Regions from separate parts of the Homo sapiens genome. Here region 2 is linked to region 1. Evidence: fine-mapped expression QTL. Tissue or cell type: monocytes. Region 1 holds a variant in brackets; the other region holds the start of a gene. All regions are shown on one strand. Distances are from middle to middle.

Region 1 (8,229 bases):
ATAAATCTTTAAGTATGTAATTAGAGCTTCAAATGTGTTTTGGCTGGAAGTTGTCCCTCTAGACAGGAACAAGATGCCTTTCATATTAGCTTCAATTTTTCATCTTTGCTGATGCCAGAGGCACCTCTCTAACCCTGTTTTCTAGAAATCCTTACTAGGTTATGGACTTTGACCAACGGTATCTAGTGCCACCTTGTGGACTGTCTAGATTTTACAGTTAGCAGTTTGTGGTTGGTGAACTAACTTTAAAGCAGGATGTTTGGTTGAAAACCACCTTGTGGAGGATATGAGTTTTTATCTGTAAATAAAACAAGTCATGCCTTTAAGAGATACTGAGGACTGTTTTTGCAGCTTAAGTCTGTAAAGGATGACAGAGTGGGAAAGTGTTGAATTGGAAATCAGGATCCATATATATGTATGGATAGATATATATGCACAGGCATGTGTGAATGTCTCATTTTTTGTGATTATTTAAAAACGTCTATTTTGTTTAAAAAAATCTGTTCTCTACATATTCGGTTATGTGAACAACAACAAACATGGAAATTAAAATAATGGTCAATGAAGGCCCCAACCAGGAAGTAAAGGACTAGAAAAATCTTTCATCAAAGAAGACTTGAAAATTTAAAAACACAATTATATACAAGGGCAAATGTTACCAAACATGGAAATCTTGCTGACATAAAAATTAAACTATAAAATATTAAAATTTTCCCAAACATAGTTTATTTTTGGGGAAAACAATATTTTCTGCTTTAATAAGCTAGCAATGAAGAAAGAGACTTTTTTAAAAAAGTAGTTTTATTAAATATTTCAAACATTCAGAAAAAGTACATACTGGGTAACTGGTCTCAGTTCTGTCACCAGTGTGTTCCCTGGCTTGTCACTTGACCTCTTGAAATTCAGATCCCCATAACTGGGGTATTAGGGGTGGATCTAGTTATTTCTTCTTTATTCCTCTCTTTCAGTACTATGGATAATTTAGAAGATTGCTGTTTTCAAAAAGAATTGTTTTTTTTTTTCGAAATACATAAGTCCTGAACTCACTCCTGAACTCCATGCTGCCATGTCCCCCCTGCCCAGCGGCAATTGATCGCGGTTAGCAGTTTCTTGAGTCTTTTCCAGATAAAGTCTATGTAACGTGAATGGAGGCATTCCATCCCTACTGTTCTGTTCATCACCTTGGGGTATGTGTGTGTGTGTGTATGTGTGTGTGTGTGTGTGTGACCTTGGCAAGCATTCCATACCAGCACATGTGGATCTATTTCATTGTTTTTCATTCTGTGGTGTTTCCTTGTATGATTTCTAAAATTTCTGTTATTGATCCTCTATTGATGGACATTTATGTAATAATAATTTAAAAAAATTAAACCCTTAAAAATAGCAAAACATATAAAATTTACCATTTTAACCATTTAGTTTACAATCATAATCACTCTCCATCTCCAGAAATTTTTTATCTTCCCAAACGGAAATTTTACTCATTAAACAATAACTCCACATTCTCTCTTCCCCAGTCCCTGGTAACCACCATTCTACTTTCTGTCTCTATGATTTTGACTACTTGAGGTACCTCATATAAGTGGAATCATATGACAATTGTCCTTTTGTGTCTGGCGTATTTCACTTGGCATAATGTCCTCAAGGTTCATCCATGTCGTAGTATGTATCAGAATTTCCTTCATTTTTAAAAATTATTTTTAATTAGGGATATATAATATTGTACGTATTTATGGGGTACATGTGTCATTTTGATACAAACATTCAATGTGTAATGATCAAATCAGGGTAATTGGGGTATCTTATCACCTCAAGCATTTATCAACTTTCCTTCCTTTTTAAGGCTGAATAATATCCCATTGCATGTATCGATGACATTTTGTTTATTCATCCACTGATGGACACTTACGTTGCTTCTACCTTTTAGCTATTGTGAATAATGCTACTGTGACCATAGGTGTACATAGCTGAAGACTTGGAAAATTATAAATTATTTTATATATGCAAAGTGTATAAAAGTTTAATTTTTTTCACTGAAGCTTTGATAATTTGAGTCTGTAAAACAAACTGACCATGGATTAACAGGAAAAAAGGCATACAGATTTATTAATGTACATATGGGCATGGGAGTCATACAAAATATGAAAAACTCAAATGTCCAGACAGCTGATGCTGTAAACCAAAAAGTATCTGAGACAGATCTCAATCAACTGAGAGTTATTTTGCCAAGGTTGATGATACACCCAGGAAAAAAAGCCACTAGCCACAATAGAATCTGTGGCCCACACTTTTTTTCCAAAGAGGATTTTGAGTGCTTCCATATTTAAAGGGGAAAACATGGGCAGGAGAGAAAAGAAGTGTAGATGAAAGAGGCAAGAAGTTGCAATCTTTTGAAGATTTCATCAGCGTTCAGTGGATCCACATTTTACATGTGAAAGGAGAGGGTAGAGGCATTTGTCTCATGCTCAGTGAATCTACGTTTTTACATAAGATAAGTAAACAGAATAGAGGAAGCAGTCAAATATGCATTTGTCTCAGGTGAGCAGAGGTATGACTTCTGGTTCTATCCTTTGTCCCGTTCTTCTGAAGATAAATTGTTTGTTATTGTCAGGGTGAAATTCAACAGAACTGTTTTAGGGTAAGGATCTTGAGGGCCCACAAAAAATTTGCTCGTGAGCAAATTGCGAGGGAGGTATGTAGGTAGTCTTTCATCTTTGTAGCTGTTGAGGAACAAAATGGGAGGCAGTTTTGTGTGACTCAGTTCTCAAGCTTGACTTTTTCCCTTAGGTATGGTGAATAGGGGGTCCCAAAATTTTATTTTCCATTCACAACTCTTTAATACTATCTTGAGGTTACAGAAAGAATAGGGGCTTGAAGCTTGTCAAGACAGGTTATGGTGGCATGAGAGGTTATGGGAAGGAGAGAAGAGGCAAGGTGTGCTGCAAAGGTGGTCTTGTTATGCAGATGATCTCACAGGTAGCAGCCCTCAGAAAGGAAAAATGGGAGGCCAGGTACGGTGGCTCATGCCTGTAATCCCAGCACTTTGGGAGACCAAGGCAAGTGGATCACCTGAGGTCAGGAGTTCGAGACCAGCCTGGACAACATGGTGAAACCCCGTCTCTACTAAAAATACAAAATTAGCTGGGTGTGGTAGCGGGTGCTTATAGTCCCAGCTACTTGGGAGGCTGAGGCAGGAGAATAGCTTGAACCCGGGAGGCGGAGGTTGCAGTGAGCTGAGAGCACACCACTGCACTCTAGCCTGGGCGACAGAGCAAGACTCCATCTCAAAAAAAAAAAAAAAAAAAAAAAAGAGATGGGAGCCTGTGGTAGATGTTTCTATAAAACCTTTAAAGGTGTCAGGCTCTCAGTTAATCTTGCCTTGTTCTGGACAAGGTGGGGCTTCAGAAAAAGCCTGTTTGCATCTGTTGTTTACTTCACTTTATTTCCTCTAGAGATGCAAATCCCCGTAAAAGACTCAGCTTTGCAGGCTGATTCTTGTGTTGCAGGCCCTCTGAATAGTCATCTCAAAATATGTCAAAGAAGTATATTTTGGAGTGAAACATTTCTTAGTTTCCTTTAGTCCCCCACTTGAAACTTTAGAACGTTTCGCTTATTAATGTTTGGGCGCAGTGGCTCATGCCTGTAATCTCAACACTTCAGGAGGCTGAGGTGGGTGGATCGCTTGAGCCCAGGAGTTTGAGATCAGCCTGGGAAATATGGCAAAAGCCCATCTCTACAGAAAAAAAAAAAATAATTAGCTAGCCATGGTGGCACGTGCCTGTAGTCCCAGCTATTCAGGAGGCTGAGGTGGGAGGATCACTTGAGCCTTGAGGGGGAGGTTGGAGGATCACTTGAGCCTTGAGGGGGAGGTTGCAGTGACCTGAGGTTGTGCCACTCTATCCTGAGTGACAGAGAGAGACCCTGTCTCAAAAAAAAAAAAAAAACACAGAAGTGTCACTTATTAAAGTAGGATTGGTAGCTATGGAGAGATTTGGGTTAGAAGTTTTGAGATAAGAGGGAGCAAAACAAATTGGGATAAGCAGAAAAGAACAAATATAAGTATGTCATGCCATATCTTCTTGAATCCGTCTCTTAGTTGTGATACTACATCAGTTAAACTGTTGTTTCCCATTGCAACAGGTGGCATTGCAGATGGGCTCTCAAAGTTAGGCCAAACATCTTTGATAAGAGACATTTCTATGAAAACAGAGAAAAATAACGTTAACATTTGGAACAGCCTATAAATTAGTTTCTTTAGAGTCTGGAGGGCAGTCAGTTGAGAAGATGGCCAGATTTGGGTTAGAAACATCTTCAGTTGAAACAGACAGGCAGTGGCAATCTGGCAGATTTTCCTGGGTTGTAGTTTTTTTTTTTTTTTTTTTT[A/TA]GTTTTTGTGGGTACATAGGTGTATACATGGGGTACATGAGATATTTTGGTACAGGCATGCAATGCATAATAATCACATCATGGAAAATTGGGTATCCATCCCCTCAAGCATTCGTCCTTTGTATTACAAACAATCCAATTATACTCTTTTAGTTATTTTAAAACGTACAGGTAAATTATTATTAACTATAGTCAACCTGGTATGCTATCAAATACTAGGTCTTATTCACTCTTTCTAACTACTTTTTTGTACCCATTAACCATCCCCACTTCCTCCCCTCCCCTCACTACCCTTCCCAGCCTCTGGTAACCATCAGTCTACACTCTATCTCCATGAGTTCAATTGTTTTGATTTTTAGATCTCATAAATAAGTGAGAACATGCATTTATCTTTCTGTGCCTGGCTTATTTCACTTAATATATTGACCTCCAATTCCATCCTTTGTTGTTGCAAATAATAGAATCTCATTCTTTTTTGTGGCTGCAGAGTACTCCATTATGTATAGGTATCACATTTTCTTTATGCATTCATCTATTGATGGACACTTAGGGTGCTTCCAAATTTTGGCTATGGTGAACAGTGCTACAACAAATATGGGAGTACAGATATCTCCTTGATATACTGATTTCCTTTCTTTTGGGTATATGCCCAGCAATGGGATTGCTGGATTGCATGGTAGCTGAATTTTTAGTTTTTTGAGGAATCTCAAAACTTCTTCAAAGTGGTTTTACTAATTTACTTTCCCACCAACAGGGTATGAGCGTTTCCTTTTCTCCAAATCCTCACTGGCATTTGTTATTGCCTGTCTTTTCTATATAAGCCATTTTAACTGGGGTAAGATGATATCTCACTGTAGTTTTGATTTGCATTTCTCTGATAATCAATGATATTGAACACCTTTTCATATGCCTGTTTGTCATTTGTGTTTCTTCTTTTGAGAAATGTTTGTTCAAATCTCTTGCTTATTTTAAATCAGATTATTAGATTTTTTTCCTGTAGAGTTGTTTGAGCTCCTTATATATTCTGGTTATTAATCTTTTGTCAGATGGGTAGTTTGTAAATATTTGCTCTCATTCTGTGGGTTGTCTCTTCACTTTATTGCTTGTTGCCTTTTCTGTACAGAAGCTTTTAAACTTGATGCGATCCTCTTTATCCATTTTTGCTTTGATTGCCTGTGCTTGTGAGGTATTACTCAAAATTTTGCCCAGAACAATGTCCTGGAGAATTTCCCCAGTGTTTTATTGTAGTAAATTCATAGTTTGAGGTCTTAGATTTAAGTCTTTAATCCGGTTTCGTTTGATTTTTATATAACACAAGAGATATAGATAAAATTTGTTCTTCTGCATATGGTTATCCAGTTTTCCCAGCACAATTTATTGAAGAGACTGTCTTTTCTGTAATGTACACTTTTGGCACCTTTGTTGAAAATGTATTCACTGTAGGTGTATGGATTTGTTTCTGGGTTTTCTATTCTGTTCCATTGGTCTATGTGTCTGTTCTTGTGCCAGTACCATGTTGTTTTGGTTACCATAGCTCTGTAGTATAATTTGAAATTAGCTAGTGTGATTCCTACAGTTTTGTTCTTTGCACTCAGGATAGCTTTGGCTAGTCTGGGTCTTTTATGGTTTCATAAACATTTTAGGATTGTTTTTTCTATTTCTGTGAAGAATGTCATTGGTATGTGAATAGGGATTACATTAAATCTGTAGATTGCTTTGGGTAGTGTGGACATTTTAACAATATTGATTCTTCCAATCCATGAACATGGGATTTCTTTCCATTTCTTGGTGTCCAATTTATTTCATCAGTGTTTTATAGTTTTCATTATAGAGATCTTTCACTTCCTTGGTTAATTCCTAAGTATTTAATTTTACGTTTGGCTATCATAAATGGGATTACTTTTTAAATTTCTTTTTCAGATTGTTCACTGTTGGCATATAGAAATGTTACTGATTTTTGTATGTTCATTTTATGTCCTGCAACTTTACTGAATTTATTTATCAGTTCTAATAGTGTTTTGGTTGCGTCTTTAAGTTTTTCCAAATGTAAGATCATATCATTTGCAAACAAGGATAATTTCACTTCTTCCATTTCAATTTGATACCCTTTATTTTTTTCTCATATCCGATCATTCTAGCTAAGACTTTCAGTACTATGTTGAATAACAGTGGTAAAAGTGGGCATTCTTGTTGTGTTCCTGCTCTTAGAGGAAAGGCTTTCATTTCGTTTTTTTATCTGTTCAGTATGATACTATCTGTGGGTCTGTTATATGTAGCTTTTATTATGTTGAGGTGTATTTCTCCTATTCCCAGTTTTTTTGTGAGTTTTTATCATGAAAGAATGTTGAACTTTGTCAAATGCTTGCTCAGCCTCAGTTGAAATAATCATATAGTTTTTGTCTTTCATTCTGATGATATGCTGTATCACATTGATTGATTTTTATATGTTGAGTCATTCTTGCATCCCTGGAATAAATCTCACTTGGTTATGATGAATTATCTTTTTAATATATTGTTGAATTAGGTTTGCTAGTATTTTGTTGAATATTTTTGCATTAATATTTATCAGAGATATTAGCCTGTAGTTTTCTTTTTTTGATGAATTTTGCCTGGTTTTGACATCAGGGAATACTGGCTTTGTAGAATGAATTTGAAAGTATTCCCTCCTCTATAATAGTTTCAGTGGAATTGGTATCAGTTCTCCTTTAAACATTTGGTAGAATTCAGCAGTGAAGCCATTGGATCCTGGGCTTCCCTTACTGGGAGATTTTTTTATTTTTTTTTTTTGGTCTGTTTGGGTTTGGGATTTCTTCATGGTTTAATTTTTATAGGTTGTATGTGTCTAGCGTTTTGCCAGTTTCTTCCATATTTTCCAATTCATTGCCATATAGTTACTCAAACTAGCCACTAATTATCCTTTGCTTTCTGAGGTATCAGTTGTAATATCACCTTTTTCATCTCTGATTTTATTTATTTGAGTCTTCTCTCTTTTATTCTTAGCCTGGCTAAAGGTTTGTCAATTTTGTTTAACTTTTCAAAAAGCCAAATTTTTGCTTCAAAGATCTTTTGTATTGTTTTCTTCACTTCAATTTCATTTATTTCTGCTCTGATCTTTATTATTTCTTCTACTAATTTTGGATTTGGTGTGCTCTTGCTTTTTTAGTTCTTTAAGATTCATTGTTATGTTGTTTATTTGAATTTTTCTACCTTTTTGATGTTTCTGGCTATAAATTTCTCTTTTTGTACCACTTTTGCTGTGTCCCATAGCTTTTGGTATGTTGTGTTTCCATTATCATTTTGTTTCAAGAAAGTTTTCAACTTCCTTCTTAATTTCTTCATTGATCCACTGGTTATTCAGGATCATATTGTTTAATTTCCATGCATTTGTATAGTTTCCAGAATTCCTCCTGTCACTGATTTGTAGTTTTATCCCATTGTTTTTAGAGAAGATGCTTGATATTATTTCAGTTTTTTTGAATGTTTTATGACTTTTTTTGTGACCTAACATATAGTTTATTTTTGAGAATGATCCATGTGCTGAGAAAAAGAATGTGTATTCTGCAGCCATTTGATGACATGTTCCATAAATATCTATTAGATCCATTTGTTTTATGGGGCAGATTAAGTCATATGTTTCCTTGTTGATTTTCTGTACCATGCTAAAAATGGGGCATTGACATCTCCGGCTATTATTGTATTGGAGTCTATCTCTCTTTAGCTCTAATAATATTTGCTTTATATATCTGGGTGCTCCAGTGTTTTGTGCATGTATATTTACTATTGTTATGTCCTCTTGCTGAATTGACCCCTTTACCATTATTATATAATGATCTTCTTTGTTTCTTC
Region 2 (8,229 bases), 60 kb before region 1:
ATTTTCAAATTTTTTAAAAAATATTTTTGATCCATAGTTGTGGTTGCAGAACCCAGTGGATATGGAGAGCTGAGAGCACCTTGGTTTTCTTCTGTCAGTTGCCCTGTTGTTTCTCTCTACTTTCTCCTGTTGATGCCACACAGGTCTCGTAGCTATTGGTGGTTTGTCCCCACTCCCTCCTATATTTTGTTATAGTTGGCTATAGGCCTTTGGTTTTGCTATCTATTTTGTGCGCCCCCCCTTTTGTTTTCAGAATACACATTCTTCTCAAGGTCCATTTTTAAAATTAGGGGAATTCAGGGAAAAAAAATTTGCGACTGCTGTTGCCATGTTTCCACTATTTCTTCATATTTTATTTTTAGGCTAAAAAATGTTAGAATATTATTAAAATGCACGAGAGCCTATTTTGCTGGATTTGAGATTTTTGTATTGCTTTACTCTGATTGTAAGGAAGGATTGTGTTGAAAAGCCGAGGTTATTATGAGAGACAATGAATGTTGGAGGCATTCTCTGATGATTTAAAGAAAGAAGTCGGTCTGGAAGACATTATGTGTTATGAAAGAAAAGGTATGTGGAGTCTCAAAGGATGACACAAACTCCCATACAAGAGAGGATCTGACCTGACGAATTGTATCAGTCCCTGGAGAGGGATGTGTGTTTTTCTCCTGATTGTGAGTACATCATGTAGCTTTCTGGACAGATTCCCAAAACCTAAAGCCATGCCACCAAAAGTTAAGTGTGTTAGGACCATCTCCTTGGTAAATAAATACAAATGTAGATTTTCTCAATATACGGTCTAGCATAATGAAAAATAATTATCCTTATTTTAATATGAGAGTTCCTTTCTGATAAATTCAGAGAGTTTCCCACATAATAGTTACATTAAAAAAGGAAACATTGCAGTGAAGTACATAGGCAGGCACTATAATGCCTATTACAGAATGCAGAAAATAAATTCCTCATTCATTCATACATTTATGCAATCAACTATGGTCATCCAAATGTACTGGTTATACTATATCAGGTCATGAAAGTCAGTGTATAAAAACGTTGCTTTTAAAAAAGTAATTAAAATTAGTCTCAATGTTGAGATCCTGTTCTTTTTCAAGAGAGAAACAAATTAGTCAATTCTACATGTATTTCTATTACCCACAAATCTCTCCTGTCTCCAAGTCATTTCTGGCTAATATCTATTCACTTCAAAATGATCTGCTTCCCCTTATTTTTCTGAGGATAACCCTAAAATTTGGGGTGGGGTTGGGTGAAGTGGGGAGGCAGGTGGCAAGAGGAAGTAGACATCAGTGCAAACACGCCTTGGCTTTGACCTCAATAGGCGATGTCTATTTTTTCTCTGCTATCAGATCAGTGCTCTGTTCATTCAGTTCTATCCTTCCCCTTTCCGACCTGTAGGCTCATCAGCCCCCTACAGCTGTCAGCTCCCTTGAATAGTCTCTAATGCCATAAATACTAAAAAAAAAAAAAAAAAAAGTTTAGGGGCATTCCTCTGGCTGAAACAGTTCAGGCTAACATCCTACTCTCTTTTGACTTATTGAGGCAAAACCCTAGACCTTGATTGCTTTTCTGATCCCCACTGGGAATAGAGCTCAGATGCCCCCAATCTCTAGATCTTCACACATGTGGGAATTGTATTATTTCTAGCTCCACAGTTTCTTTCAAAGGAATCCCAACGACTGGGTGTGTGTGGCTGGTGGGTGGGTGGGGATTTATAGGCCTTTCTTTGGGACATACACCAATATCTCTGGGGAGAGAAAATTGGTTCCCCCATCTTTGTGGCAGATTGCATTATTGTTTACAATTAACCACACAACCCCCACTCCAAAAAAATTACAATCCATGCCCATTGCCATGTGATTTGCCTATGAAAGAAGTAGACTTCTCCACTTACTTGGGGTTTGGCCATATGAAAGACCTTGGCCAATGGGATTTGAGTAGACATGTCATGAGACATTAGAGAAGCAGCTTTAAGAGGCTTCACAAGTTTCTAACAGCTTTCTGGCTCTTCCCATCTCCCTTGAGAATTGCCAAGTTCTACATAGGGGCAGCTTCTTCAGCTTGGGCACTGGATTGAGGAGACCCATGGAGCAGAACCTCAGCTGACCCAGCATGTAATACAAATAAGAAATAAACCTTTGTGGCCATCAGCCATTTTTTTTTTTTTCAACCGCAAAAGTGATGAATATATTGTTTGTGGCTTTTTTTCCTTTCACCTCATGTGCTGAAACTCATGAAGTCCAGCCAATTCTAAACTACAAACTCTGACTTATGAGACTACTGTCACTGCCATGAGCTTCAAATATCTATTACACAAGCATCAGATTTGCCTTTTCTTTCTCCCCGAGGCAGGGAAGGAAATGCCCTAGCTGTCTGAGAAGAGTATGTGAGCAGAGAACATGGAATTGTTCAGATTTTCATCCTGATGGACAAGAACACATCAAACTATCAAACATAAAACTTGAAAACTCCAAGACATTTATCCTTCCTGGACTCAAGGTATTTACAGGGCAGAGGAAATATCTCTTAAGTAATTATAATGTGGGACAACAAATAGTGTGTCATCAAGGTGTGCGGAGAAAAGTGCTGTGGGACCTCATGAAAGAAGAGGCCTGGAAGGACAGGTAGGATTTGACAATTCAAGGGGAGGGGAGAGAAAGCATTTTGTATTCAAGATGCAGACAGAGCTAAATTACAGAGGCAGGAAATGAAGGGGCATGGATGGGGGTGTGAGTGAAATGATGAGGGGAGACTGGTGGAAGGTCAGATCGGAAAGGCTCCGCAAGGCCTACTTGTGGTCCTAGATAAGGAGTGTGGACTGTGAAGTTCTAAGACTGGCTAAAGACCATATAGAAAAGGGGCTGGAGAGTGGATTTTAGCAGCATTTATTATTTTAGAAACAATATAGCCCTTTAAAATAGTGACACATAAAGTAAATGTACCTATACAGCTGGAAAAACAATTCAGGTGATGGATTACTCTCCCCAAATGGCTGGTGTACACTGTGTGTATATGTTTGTACTTCATATTCATTGTACTTATGAAGTCTTTTATGGTTTGTTGTTGTTGGTATTGGATTGGTGCATTTTTCAGCCAAAGAAACAGCCTTGATTTCCTGCAGTTGTTTCCCTACTAATAGGGCACATCTTACTATACTTAGATCTCCTTGGCATTTTAATTCGTGTTTTAAAAAATAACCACACAATAATGCAAATGTACTTAATGCCACTGAACTGTACTTTTTTTTTTTTTTTTTTTGAGACGGAGTCTCGCTCTGTCACCCAGGCTGGAGTGCAGCGGCGCGATCTCGGCTCACTGCAAGCTCCGCCTCCCGGGTTCACGCCATTCTCCTGCCTCAGCCTCCCGAGTAGCTGGGACTACAGGCGCCCACCACCACGCCTGGCTAATATTTTTGTATTTTTAGTAGAGATTGGGTTTCACCGTGTTAGCCAGGATGGTCTCGATCTCCTGACCCCGTGATCCACCCGCCTCGGCCTCCCAAAGTGTTGGGATTACAGGCGTGAGCCACCGCGCCCGGCCTGTACTCTTAAAGTAGTATATTTGTTATCGTTTGCCACACACAAAAATAATACCCCAGCAGATCTTCATACGAGTTAATTTACGCTATAAGTTTAGAGCCGGAATTTCCTCAGCTCATCACTCAGTGTTAACATTGAAGATGTCCAGGTTGGTTATGAAGGATGTGACATCCTAGCGTTGGCCACTCTTTTCCTGGTCCTTCCTGTCTTGCAGGTGAGCCTCTGGGGGTCAGGAGAAAGTCTCCTCTATCTCCTGCTCACTTTCGTGTAGGGGAGGGAAGGTGTGTGTGTGGGTGGGTGGGGGCGTTTTGTGTGAGGGAGGCCGATACTGGGCAGGCAGCCACGCTCTTCTTCCTCCATCCTGGGGCGGAAGTGGGGAGAGCAGCAGTTTAAAGGTTCTGTTGCAGCAGTTTAAAGGATCCACTCAGCCGCCTTAACCGCCAACCAGCAGGCTAAGGGAGGAACAGAATGAACAATGTTTGGATCCCAATGACTGGAGATGAAAGTTGCAAAAGCTCTGCCCAGGCTTCTACCAAGGATTAACTTTCCAGGGCATCTGCTGAACTGCTCTTCGGGGCTGTCTGCTGAGATTGGCGGCGGGACCCTCCCGCCTCTCACTCGTGCCTTTGTTCCCCACGCCGGCCTAACCCCGCGCCCCTGCGCTCGCGGCCAGGGCACCTGACCCACGCGCCGCCCGCCGGGGATGCGGGAGCCGCCACTGCTACCGCTGCCACCGCTGCCGGGCCTGCTCCGCCAAGCACATGCGCAGTGGCGACGCCGAGCCGGCGCCCTCAGTCTCCTCCTCCACCGCCTCCCGGTTCCGCAGTCACTTCCTGCAGCTGTTTCCCTGTGGGTCGGGTTGGACTGACTTTTGACAGTCAGCCTTCGGCTGCGGAGGGGGCTCGGCGGCGGCCGGCGGAGAAAGTTGCTCCGAGAAGAGGCTGGGTCGAGCTGGGCCGAGCCGGGCGCGCAGGGCGGGCGTCGCGGGCGTCCCGGGCGGACGCGGCGCGGAGACTGCCGGCGCGTCCCGGGGGTTCCGGTAAGTGCGGGCGATTGGGAGCCGCGGAGCTTTCAGGACGAGCCCCTGGAGCGCCGGGGACTAGCGGTTCCTTTCCGATGCTCTTTCCATCTGCCCTCCACGTGACAGGGCTTGCGCTGCTTCTATTTATCAGTTTGCTTGTTTCAGGCATTTCACGTGGACCAGGTGGATCATCTGTGCGTGCAGCTGCCTTGGCCCTCTCAGTTGCCCCCGCCCCGTGGGAGTCGGGGGATTCCATCCTTCGTGATGGCATCCATACCGGGTTGAGGTGCGTGTGTGGGTTCGTGTGTATGCATGCACATCTTAGGAATGTAAGGTGGATGTGGGCGACGCTGAACTGTCTGTAGCTTTGATTCAAATCTGTAAACAGTTCTCTAGGATTAGGAACCGTCACAGCGGAGACTGAAAAACATTCGCCAATTCACCAAGGCCTCTTCCCCAGTTTTCTGCGTTCTTTTGAGCCTTCTTTATAGGATACACCTTGCCTCAAGTGATTATTATTATTATTTTTTTTAACTTTTCTCCCTCTCATTCCTTCTTGCTGCGTTCTGATGACCTCTGAGTAATGCTCGCTGCCTTTCCCTCATTTCCAGAATTCCCAATTACAGACTTACCTAGTTTGCTGAGGTGCTCCTAACCTGTTCCTTTATTCTATTCTCTTTCCTCTGTAGATTTCTCCAAATGAGACAAGAGATTGTCTTTAACACAGTATGTGAAGAGTAGGCCCCAGTCCAATCATTAAAACTAAGTATGCTATGACAATTAATTTTCTTTAAACAGGGTACCTTGTGAAGCTTTGATTTTCTTTAATGTCGTCTTAGCTCCTTTCCAAACCAGGACATTAACCAGCATAAATCCTTCATTTATGCCATCGCAAGCATCAAAGTGACTGGTTTTTAAGATTTGAAGAATATTTATGCCAGTCTTCAAATTAGTCCCTTTTAAACCAATGCAACAGTTGAACAGATCTGAGTTGCATGTTTTGGGTCTCTGTATTCCATCATTCATGCATTCACTGAAGACTTGGTTTTATTCATTTTAAGATTTATATTTTATACTAATTTTTGTTTGCAAATGTACTAATATTTGATGCAATTGTCATACATAGATTTTTTTGAGGAGTCGACATTGTGTTGATTGTTAAATATAACAAGAAATAAATTTGGGATATCAAGCTACTCTTTAAAAATTGTAAAGATCAAATGTGATAATGGGTAAATCTGTGTTTGGCAAGAATTTTTTCTTTAAATCAGGTAACTGTCACCTCTGGTAGGAGGCCTTTTGTGCCTCTGTTCTTTGAGAAGGATCTTTATTTTGAGGGAAACCTGTAGATAACACTGGGGGAGACACATGCTAGAATTTCCTCAAGTGAAAGTGAGCTTTCATAAAACAAGTCCAGACATGCCTAGGCAATTGGTAGCATTTGATTTTCTGTTTATATTGCTGATTTCCTTTATCCAGAGGTTTTGACACCCCCCCCCACCTTTTCACTAATGAACTAGCAGAATGTTTGTGGCAATTTGACATCAGTAGCTTTTCAACATTATGAATTATTATTATTAGGTAGTTAAACTTTTTAAAAGCTGTTCTTTGTCTACTTAGTTCCGTTTTCTAAAATGACCATATCTGTCTTTGCTTTCTGGACTATCTTTGCTTGATTCAATTAAGAGAAATAATACCATTACAGAGAACCTGACTTTTTAAATGTTAAAACTCTATATTGCTTTTCTTTTATGTTCCCAGAGATATGGGCAGTACACTTCTGCTTAAAAATTAAATAATATTATCATTTTTCTAAATTTTGTGATTAATGAGAAGTATTGTTAAATTCTATGACTAATACTTATGCACTTTGTCCTTAACTACATTATTTTCCCATCACGCTGATTTCCTTTGTTGCCTCCCCACCCCAAATTTCGTCTGAAAGTTGTTACTTGATTTTCAGGTGCTGTGTAGTTATCAAATATGGTAAAATAGACTTTAACTTTTCAAAATTTACTTGATTCATTTTAGTAATTCTATTATTGCCATAATGTACACATTTCCATTGCAGATGGAAAATTTCAGCAGCTTAAAATAGCCATATTCTATTGACCAAGAGAAGAGGTTTTAATAATACTGTATTGAGAGAGTGGAGGGAATTGTGGATTTTGAAATAAGGATTCTAATTTGGGTTAATTAGAATCTTGGGAACTCAAAGGGTGTACTGTGGTTCATTTTGAGACACTCAGGGTTAGACGGCGCCATCTGGGGGGGAGGCAGGAGACATTATGGATAAAGATTGAAGAGGGAGAGGAACATTTTGGGTCTTTTCTGAGGGAATTATAATAGAGACTATCAGTTATTTGTTAAGAAGGAGGAGGGAAATAGCCTCAAGATTGAGGAACTGGAATTATACTGTGGCTTATGGTGGTGTGATCCATTACTCCATTGGACATTTCCTTGATACCTTATTTTGTGTAGGTAATTTACCTAGAGAAGGAGGAAAAATTTGGGTTTTACAGGGGCTGATGAATATAATCTAAGGCTGTATGAGGCAGGGCTGTAAACTCAAGAGCTCACAGAGAACAGGCAAGTAACAAGTACAGGCAGCAGCTGAGTGGGGACTGAGGTGTCCCAGAGAAGGCAGGCCTCGCTAGAGGGCACAGTGCCTCTGAGCACTAACTAGCTAATTGCGTCCCATATAGGAATGTGGGCCAAGTGATGCCAGATCATCCTTTTTCAAGAGAAGCCATGAATCTCTTGATTTTTAAATGCTAACAACTAATTCGACTTAAAAAAATGAAAACAAAACTGTATATTCCAAACAGCACATCTGTGGCTGTATGTGGCCCACAGGCTGTTTGCCACCTCTGCTATACATTTGCTCAACTACTTAAATATTGCTAGTTGATCAGAAGGAACATATTTTATTTATTTCTGTCATACTTTAGGCTACTCCTAGAGTTCCCTGAAATTTTAGCTAGTTCTATAAGTGCTTTAAGAATTCTGCAAGATGATATTCTTTTATACACTCTTTTTGATATTGGTTGGTTGGAAGATATGTTTGCTAAGATTTTTAGCTGGTGGTCTTTTTTTTTTTTGAGTCACAGTCTTGCTCTGTCACCCAGGCTGGAGTGCAATGGCACGATCTCGGCTCACGACCACCTCTGCCTCCCCGGTTCAAGCGATTCTCCTGCCTCAGCCTCCTGAGTAGCTGGGATTACAGGCACTCGCCACCACACCTGGCTAATTTTTGTATTTTTAGTAGAGACGGGGTTTCACCATGTTGTCTTGAACAGGCTGGTCTCGAACTCCTGACCTCAGGTGATCTGCCCACCTTGGCCTCCCAAAATGCTGGGATTACAGGCGTGAGCCACCACACCTGGACAGCTCGTGGTGTTTTTGTCTGTGCATGATTATCATTAAGAGTGTTTAAGTGTAAGTGTGCCTGAGGGAAGGGGTCTGGACTAGGTGACATTTGATGTCCATTTCAGCCATGTGACTTTTAGATTTAGCCGTGGATGCAATGCTGTTAATGTTCACGGGCCAAAGGGATAGCAGTTGGAACTGTGCCAAGCAAAATAAAGCCAAATCTATAAAGCCATTCTCAGTGGAAGAGCACCGTGTTAACATGAATTAACAGGCAGGGGAAGTCTG

The links. PIP is the estimated chance that this variant, and not a neighbour inherited with it, causes the effect.
Region 2: it holds the start of ZMAT3, and the variant in region 1 is fine-mapped to the expression of ZMAT3 in monocytes (Fairfax 2014, PIP 0.95).

Annotation. Positions count from the first base shown.
Region 1 is chr3:179,007,675-179,015,903 of GRCh38, reverse strand. No RefSeq gene overlaps it. Among named protein-coding and RNA genes, the nearest start is that of ZMAT3, 60 kb to the left of the region's middle. The variant A/TA (reference allele first, on the strand shown) is at 4,384.
Region 2 is chr3:179,067,956-179,076,184 of GRCh38, reverse strand. ZMAT3 (zinc finger matrin-type 3) reads left to right here and starts at 4,376. Exons shown (of 6, transcript NM_022470.4): 1 at 4,376-4,590. RefSeq lists silencers at 3,950-4,359, 4,500-4,649.